Linked DNA regions of Homo sapiens: region 2 is linked to region 1. Evidence: fine-mapped expression QTL. A gene starts in region 1. The other region holds a variant in brackets. All regions are shown on one strand. Distances are between the middles of the regions.

Evidence for each region. PIP is the estimated chance that this variant, and not a neighbour inherited with it, causes the effect. A credible set is the group of variants that fine-mapping cannot tell apart.
Region 2: its variant is the best candidate, but not a certain one, in a credible set for the expression of CPNE2 in sun-exposed skin (GTEx, PIP 0.90).

Annotation. Positions count from the first base shown.
Region 1 is chr16:57,090,744-57,094,743 of GRCh38, forward strand. CPNE2 (copine 2) reads left to right here and starts at 1,840. Exons shown (of 16, transcript NM_152727.6): 1 at 1,840-2,047. RefSeq lists silencers at 1,362-1,431, 1,452-1,701, 1,812-1,861, 1,922-2,331.
Region 2 is chr16:57,137,358-57,141,357 of GRCh38, forward strand. The region is part of intron 14 of CPNE2 (copine 2); the gene reads left to right. Among named protein-coding and RNA genes, the nearest start is that of PSME3IP1, 47 kb to the right of the region's middle. The variant C/T (reference allele first, on the strand shown) is at 2,498.

The DNA of each region.
Region 1 (4,000 bases):
GTCTTGAATTCCCGACCTCAAGTAATCGCCCGCCTTGGCCTCCCAAAGTGCTGGGATTACAGGTGTGAGCCACCACAACTGGCCAGTAATTCGTACCTTTCTATGGCTGTATAATATTCTATGTTGTGTGGATATACCACATTTTGTTTTTCCATTCATCAGTGGATGAACATTTGCGTGGTTTCCACTTTTTGGCTATTATGAATAATGCTGCTACGTACATTTGTGTATGTTTTGTGTGGCCATATGTTTTCATTTCTCCCGGGTAGATATCTAGGAGTGGAATTGCTGTGACCCCTGGCCTTTGTACTCTGCCTCCTTGGCTAGGGATCTAGTATCTTCCTTGACAGGCCCAACTATCTCATCCTTCAGGTTTCTTAAAGGAAGCCTCGCTGACTCCCATGGCTGAGTTGGGTCTTCTGTGCCACCCTACCTCCAATCTTTGCACATTTCATATGGTGATATGATGGCCTGGGTCCTGATCTTGGCCCCCACAGGTGAGCAACTTGAGAGAGACTATCTGCTTTGGTTCACCACTGTCCATCCCAGTGCCTGGCTCTCCTGCTGCTGGAAAGACAAGAGACAGATTCTGAGGCCAGAGCAATCAGGAAAGTCTTCCTGGAGGAAGCGGGGCTGGAGTTGGGTTGATAGGTTGGTTTGCCCCAGAGCGGGGCAGAGGGCTTTGATTGGCTTCGGTGGAAGAAAGGTGAAGAGAGCTTGGAGAAAGGAAAGATGGATGGGTGACAGGCAGGCAGAGAACAAAGCTCAGAGCCCCGGGGGCTGTTTAGTCTCGGCCCCTGTAAGGCTGCAAAGTGCCAGTGACTCAGACGTGGAGGGAGGCTCACAGGCTGCAGCGCGCGAGGCTCCCACATTAACCCTCACCTGCCTGGAATCGAAAAGCCACAATGGAAGCACTCGGCATTAACCCTCAGCTGCCCAGTCCTTGAGCCCCAGGGCCAAGGGCTGTGGACATGGCCTTGAGATCCCCGGGAAAGCCCCGCCCCCCAGAATCTGGTTACGTGAGGCTCAGCCTTCTGATGCCCGGTGGTGAACTTGCCCAGAGAGCACCTAAATACCGCGGAGTGGCCAAAGGCTTGAGCGCCCAGCGACAGACAAGTGTCCTAAGAATTGGTGCCTCTTCTAGGGAAAAGGAGGCCTGGGCTCCAAGGCCTTAAAGACTCGCCTAATTTTCCGCACGGATGAGTAGACCCAGGCCCAGTTCGGATCCGTCTTTATCTTATCGTCTGTGTCAGAGAAATATGTCATATTTCCAATCTCTGGCGGCAAGAAAATGCCGAGCTCTTTTGCTATTGAAAAAAAAAAGGGAAGAAAACACTGCGGCCCTAATCCTGCCCAATACAACCCAGAACCCAGCCTTGGGTGTTGCCCCGAGGGCGCAGCGCCGCTCCCATCGGCGCTGGGGGTCCAAGCGGCCCTGGGGCCCCGCAGGCCCGGGCTGAGGCCACCCCTCTGTTCCCGCGTCGGTGGCCCTGAGCGCACGGCGCTCGGAACTCGGAGGTGCCAGAGGCTCGGGCAAAGCAGGCCTGGGGAGGGCGCGAAGCCGCGTTGTTCCGATCCTCAGCCACCTGAGTCCCAGCCTGGAACCTTCGGACCCTCGCGTTCGGCCCGAACGTTCGGGCCCCCTCGGTGCCAGGCGCCCCGAGTGCCGCGGCGCGCCGGGCGCGGGCTGGGAGCGGCGGACTGCGGGCGGGACAGCGCCCCCGCTCCTCCCGTGGGAGAGCGCGCGCCCCTCCAGGAAGCTCCCGCCTCGCCTCCCACTTCCCTCCCCACTCCCCTCCTCGGCCGGAGGGAGGAGCCCGAGCCGCCGCCGCCGCCGCCGCCCGCCCGCCCGGCCCGGGAGGAGGACCGGACCCCGAGCGGCTGGGAGCGCACGCGAGCGGGCCGTGGCCGCGCGGGCAGCGCCCTGAGCCTGTCCCGCGCCCGCGGGCCCGGCCGAGCAGGAGCAGCTCCCGGGGATGCCCGGGCGGCTCGGAGCGCGGGCAGCGGCAGCCGTGCGGTGAGGGCGGTGGCGCCCGCGGGACCTGCGGTGAGTGGGGCCCGGGCAGGCGGGGCAGCTTGGCGTGAGTGCCCAACTTCGGCCTTGGGGCTGGGCTCTTTGATCCAGCTGCGGGTCCGAAGGAACCCGGGTTCCGCCTCGGGGGGCTGCGGCGCTCTAGCCCCCGCCGCCAGCGCGAACCCGGACTCCGGCGCTTCGGTGACTCAGCTCCGACCCGGCCACGCGGGGGCGCCCCGCCGGCTCCCGGACTGCGGGGAAGGGCGGGCGGGGTCCCTGGGGAGGGGGGCGCCCTCGGGGGTCCGAGCCCAGCTGCTTTGGGGACCCTTCCACCCGCCCCGAGGGGCTTGGAGGGCGTACGGGAGGTGGAGACCCGCCGCTGCCGCAGCTGCTGAAGGCGTGAGGTCGCCCTGGCTCTCGGCGGGCGCTGGCTCCTCTCCGCTCCCCTCTGCCCTCCTCCCACCCCTCAACACCCACCCCCTGCCCCAGGCAACTGCCGGAGGGCCGGCTCCCAGCCCCGGTACTGGGAGCGCAGAGGGGGAGTGGAGCTGGGCAGCTTCCCAGAAGTCGGAGTGTGTTTGCAAACTAGTTTTTGCGAAAAAGCTGTCTGGCACCTGTGTGTTTAAAGGGGGTGTGGGGGTGGGCATGGAGAGAGCGGGCGAACAAGGCCCTCTCTTATTCCCCGTTTCTCACAGCGATGCTCCTCTGAAAATAGAGGGGTCTTACACCCTCTTCCCTGCTCTTCCCACCCCATCCCCCAGCCTCGCTCCACGTCCCCCCGAGTTCAAGAAGCTCTCCTATGGGGAAGGGGCTGCTTCAAAGGGGGCTGTGATTTGCCCAAGGTCACAGATGCTGCTGGCTCTGGTAGCTAATAGGGTGTTCATCTTGCATCTGAATCCCCTGCCCCATATGTACTGGGGGAAGGGACAAGGGGTCTGGAAGAATGATCTTCCAGACAAAACGCCCTTTTTTTTGTCTGCCTTAGTTTTTTGCTCCCTTAGAGGTGTGTGCTGTCATCAAAGGTTGGGGGGCTTTTTCTGCCCCTTGGGCATCCACAGCTTCACGGACTGCAGGGAGCCCATGGTTTTCAGGAAACAGGCGGTGTGCGCAGATTGTAATCCCTGGCAGCTGCAGCCTGCCCTGATGGGGAGGCCTGGGAGACCTGGGTCTGAACCCCACCTATGACCAACAGGGAACTTGGCCCAGACCCTCCCCCCCTGTGGCCCTCTGGGTCACCATCTGTGAAATGGGCTGATGTTCCGGGGCCTGCCTCCTGGAGAATGGACACAGCATGAAGGCGTGGTTTTATGGCATTCCGCCTGGCATAGGTCCAGGTGAGCTCCAGGACCGCCCCAGCCAGCTGGATTGGAAGGGGTCACCCAGGCAGGTTTCTCCATGGAAAGAACCAGGGACGAAGGATGTGGACGCTTGGGTTCGTTTTGCGGCCGTCACTTCCTGTCTGCGTGCCTTGTCACCCCTTGGACTTGGGGGGTTTTCTGTCTGTAAAATGAGGCAAACTGTGACATGATCCAGCTTACAGTAGGGCGGCTGGGAGGCTGGAACTGGGGAACAGGGAGCAGACGTTCTGCAAGTAGGGAGCACTTCATGAGTGGCAAGTGTGGTGTCTCTGGTGGTGTTCCAACGGACACTCCCTCTGGAATGTCATGAGAATTAAAAACTGGGGCATAAGGGAAGAAGATGGCTGAGAATGGAGCCTCGGTTTCTATGTCTGTAAAACAGTAAGTACTGGACCCCATCTGGTCCTCCTCCCAGTCCTCAGTTTTTATATCTATACACCTTCATATTCTTTTCAGGTAATTGTGTATTTCTGCAAAGGTAGGATTAAATTAGATTGCAAGGACTCGGGTGCCAGCACTTATTGGTACGTGGTGAGTGCCTGGTTAACTGTCATTGTCATTATCCATGGGAATATTAAGAAGCCTGATGTGGGTGACTGCATCCAGGATCCTTTGTGGGGTTGTCTCA
Region 2 (4,000 bases), 47 kb after region 1:
TTCTCTTTGCTTTAAATCCTAGTGGACACCTCTGGGCCTTGCTTTACCTTCACGTATTGTAAAAGTTGAGTCAAGCTCAACTTGATTGGTCCTGGCTTCCTGGAGCACAGACTGGAGAAAGCAAATCCATTCGTGCTGAGCAGGAAGCAGGGCTGTGATCAACGGGAGATGTCTCCCCAGGGCGAGGTACTGGTTATTCCCACAAGAGTAACAAGATGGAAAACTGGAGGCAGTGATCCCTGAGGCCCTAACGCTGACCCTTCTGAGCCACCTAGTTCCAATCAGAGCTGCCCCTGCCTTACACTGAGGGCTGCTGAACTGTCTGGCCCTGGCCCTACACTCAGCAACAAGCCTAGAGCCTCACTGGCCCGGCTGAGGCTGCCAAAGTAGCTGCGTGGCATCTGGAATATATGGTAAGCAGCCATCCCAGGCATCTGCAACCGTGGTCTCCCTTCCCTTCTCCCGCCCCCAGCTGCAGGCTGGCTCCCAGGCAGGCCCTACTGGCAGGGTCTGATGCCAGTGGTGGGGTCACCAAAGGTCACCTTGCCCACCTCCCCATTTCCACCATGACCTGCCCTTGCCTCTCTCTGCAGTATGAGTTGAGAGGTCTTCTCCCCCTGCCCTAAGGGCAGTTATCTGATGTCCCTTCTGCCTTCTCCTGACCTTGGGGACCTGACTGACCTATGCCCTATGCATAGGACTTCTCAGCCCCTGACTCAGCCCTGCTCCTCACGCTCCAGCGCCGTGACGGGGAATCAGGCACCCAGCCCAGATGCTGGTCTGGGTTGAGGAGACTTGACTCCAATTCCTTTCTGGCCACTACCTCCTGGGAGACCTCGGCCAGCCCCCACCCCTTTCTCATCTTCCACCTCCATTGAAAGAAGAGGGTTGCTGAAGTCACTTCTAGAGTGTTCATTTCACTAGACTCTAAAATATCCCAAATTCACCCACTTCCCCATGGCCACAGGTCTCTCAGTGGACCCTGCAGCTGCCTTCACCACTCCTCACACCACCAGTCCACAAGCTACCATTTGTTTCCCCCACTGGAGGGTCAGATCCAGCCGCTGCCCTGCCAAAAACCCTTCGCCATCAGATTGGATCCCCTGAGGCCAGCCTCTGCCTTCCTTACCGACCCGATCACTGACTGCACAGCCCTTTCCTTCTCTTAGGATGATTCTGCCACCTAACCCCCCGTGTGTTCCTCGAGCACTCCTAGCTGTTCCCCCGCAGGTCCTTCCTGGACTCTGCAAGGCCCTCCCTCAGGGCCTCCTCCCCCAAGCAGCCTTCCCTGACCACTATATGAAGCAGATCTCTTGCCTTCTCTGCCTGTTCCTGGCTGACCCTGATGATGGTCGGCAATGTCTAGTTCACATCCTTCTCTCCGTGCCTGGTCCAGTGCCTGGGCTGTGCAGGCTCATCGTGCTCTGTGAATGGATGAAGTCAGCACTGGCTGAGGGATGTCAGTTGTACAAGCTCAGTCAGAGCCTCCTCCCCCAGGGAAAGGGACCTGGTCCCATGCCTAAGGGGACCATTGGGACCAGCCAAGGGAGGGAGGCACCTGGTCACCAGGGAGGTGGCAGTTGACTTCCGGGAGGTGGTGGGAAAGATAGTGCAACTGCCCAGTGGGTTCACCTTGCCTGCTGCCTAGAAAGAATGATTTATCAAGACAGGGGAACTGCAATGGAGAAAGAGTAATTCACAGAGAGCCGGTTGTGCAGGAAACCGGACTTTTATTATTTCTCAAATCAGTCTCCCCGAGCATTTGGGGATCAGAGTTTTTAAAGATAATTTGGCGAGTAGAAGCTTGGAAAGTGGGGAGTGCTGATTGGTCAGGCTGGAGATGGAATCATAGGGGGTCGAAGTGAGTTTTTCTTGCTGTCTGAAGTGAGTTTTTCTTGCTGTCTTCTGTTCCTGGGTGCAATGGCAGAACTGACTGAGCCAGATTACCAGTCTGGGTGGTGACAGCTGATCCATGGAGTGCAGGGTCTGCAAAATATCTCAAGCACTGATCTTAGGTTTCACAGTAGTGACATCCCCAATTTGGGGAGGTTCAGACTCTTGGAGCCAGAGGCTGCATGACTCCTAAACTGTAATTTCCAATCTGTAGCTGATTTGTTAGTCCTGCAAAGACATACTGGACCCCAGGCAAGAAGAGGGTCTTTTTGGGAATGGGCTGTTATCAGTTTGTTTCAGAGTCAAACCGTGAACTGAATCCCTTCCCAAAGTTAGTTTGGCCTACACCCAGGAATGAACAAGGACAGTTGAAGGGTTAGAAGCAAGATGGAGTCAGTTAGGTCTGATTTCTTTCGCTGTCATAATTTCCTCAGTTATAATTTTGCAAAGGCGGTTTCAATAGGAGTGGGGAGTGGCAGAGCCTCTTCTGATGGTTCAGGAGGCAGTAGAGAATCTGTGGGAAAAATGGGTACCCTGGAGTGGCGGGTGCCAGGGTTTGAATCCTGCCGCTGTCCCTTCCTCACTGTGTGACTTGGGCAAGTCA[C/T]GTCACCTTAGTTTCCTCATTTGTACAGTGGGAAAACTAATAGGATCAATCAGGAGGAGGTAGTATTAGGATTAAATAAGATCACTCAGCACATGGCACCCAAAAAGACCTGAGGGACGGAGAAGGACAGGCCAGCAAAGCGCTCAGGGAAGAGTGGCCGGGGTAGAGGGAACAGGAAGCGCAGGGCGTGGAGGCAGCACCCGGCCAGAAGGAGCTCAGAGTGCCAGAAGGAGCTTCCCGGCCCTGACCCTGGCAACCCGGAGCCTGGGGCATGTTTCTTCTTATGGAATGGAATGTTTCCTGCTCTAAACCCATTTCCTCTTTTTGTTTTTTGAGACAGAGTTTCACTCTTGTTGCCCAGGCTGGAGTGCAATGGTGCAATCTTGGCTCACTGCAACCTCCGCCTCCTGGGTTCAAGCGATTCTCCTGTCTCAGCATCCCAAGTAGCTGGGATTACAGGTGCCCACCACCACGCCTGGTTAATTTTTTGTATTTTTAGTAGAGATAGGGTTCCACCATGTTGGCCAGGCCTGTCTCAAACCCCTGTCCTCAGGTGATCCGCCCGCCTCAGCCTCCCAAAGTGCTGGGATTACAGGTGTGAGCCACTGCACCCACACCCATTTCCTCTTATGAAATGGGCGTAGTAAACCCCCAGTGTGCTGTGAGGACCTGGGTGCAGGCTTAATGGGCAGTAACTGGGAAAGGCCTGGGAGGGATATTTTTTTTTTGAGACAAAGTCTCATTCTGTTGCCCAGGCTGAAGTGCAGTGGCACAGTCTCAGCTCACTGCAATCTTCACCTCCTGGGTTCAAGCAATTCTCCTGACTCAACCTCCTGAGTAGCTGGGATTACAAGCACCTGCCACCACGCCGGGCTAATTTTTGTATTTTTAGTAGAGACAGAGTTTCACCATGTTGGCCGCACTGGTCTTGAACTTGTGACCTCAACTGATCTGCCCACCTCAGCCTCCCAAAGTGCTGGGATTACAGACCTGAGCCACGGCACCCGGCCGGGATTTTTTTTTTTTTTTTTTTTTTTTTTTAATTCCTGGGTTTGCTGGGCTAGAACTGGCTAGAGAGGGCACAGCAAGAGGCAGGCTTCACCTTGCACTCCCTCCTGTTCGGGTGCCAGGCCATTGTCCCACCCAGTCTTGTCCACCCTGAGCAGGCTTTCAAAGGGATAGAAAAAGAAAGTCTTGCATGTTTGTTTAAGGGGAAAAATGTGGGGCAGGGAGCGGGCGTGCAGCCCAGTGTTAGCGCCAGGGCCCTTTCACAGCTGCACCTGCAGAGCTGGGGCAGGACTGGGCAGGAACCAGGGTCCTGGGGAGAGGTGGGTCTGTGTCTGCTGGACCCAGGTCTGAGGGGGTTTGGGCCCCAGGAAAGGCCAGGAAGGGCATTTGTGTGTTCTGGGGAGCAGCTGCGGAGAGCTCCCCAGAGGGAAGAAGCAGAAGGACTTGAGGCCCAAGCACCTGGTGCTAGTCCTCTGGACATCCCAGCCACTTTTG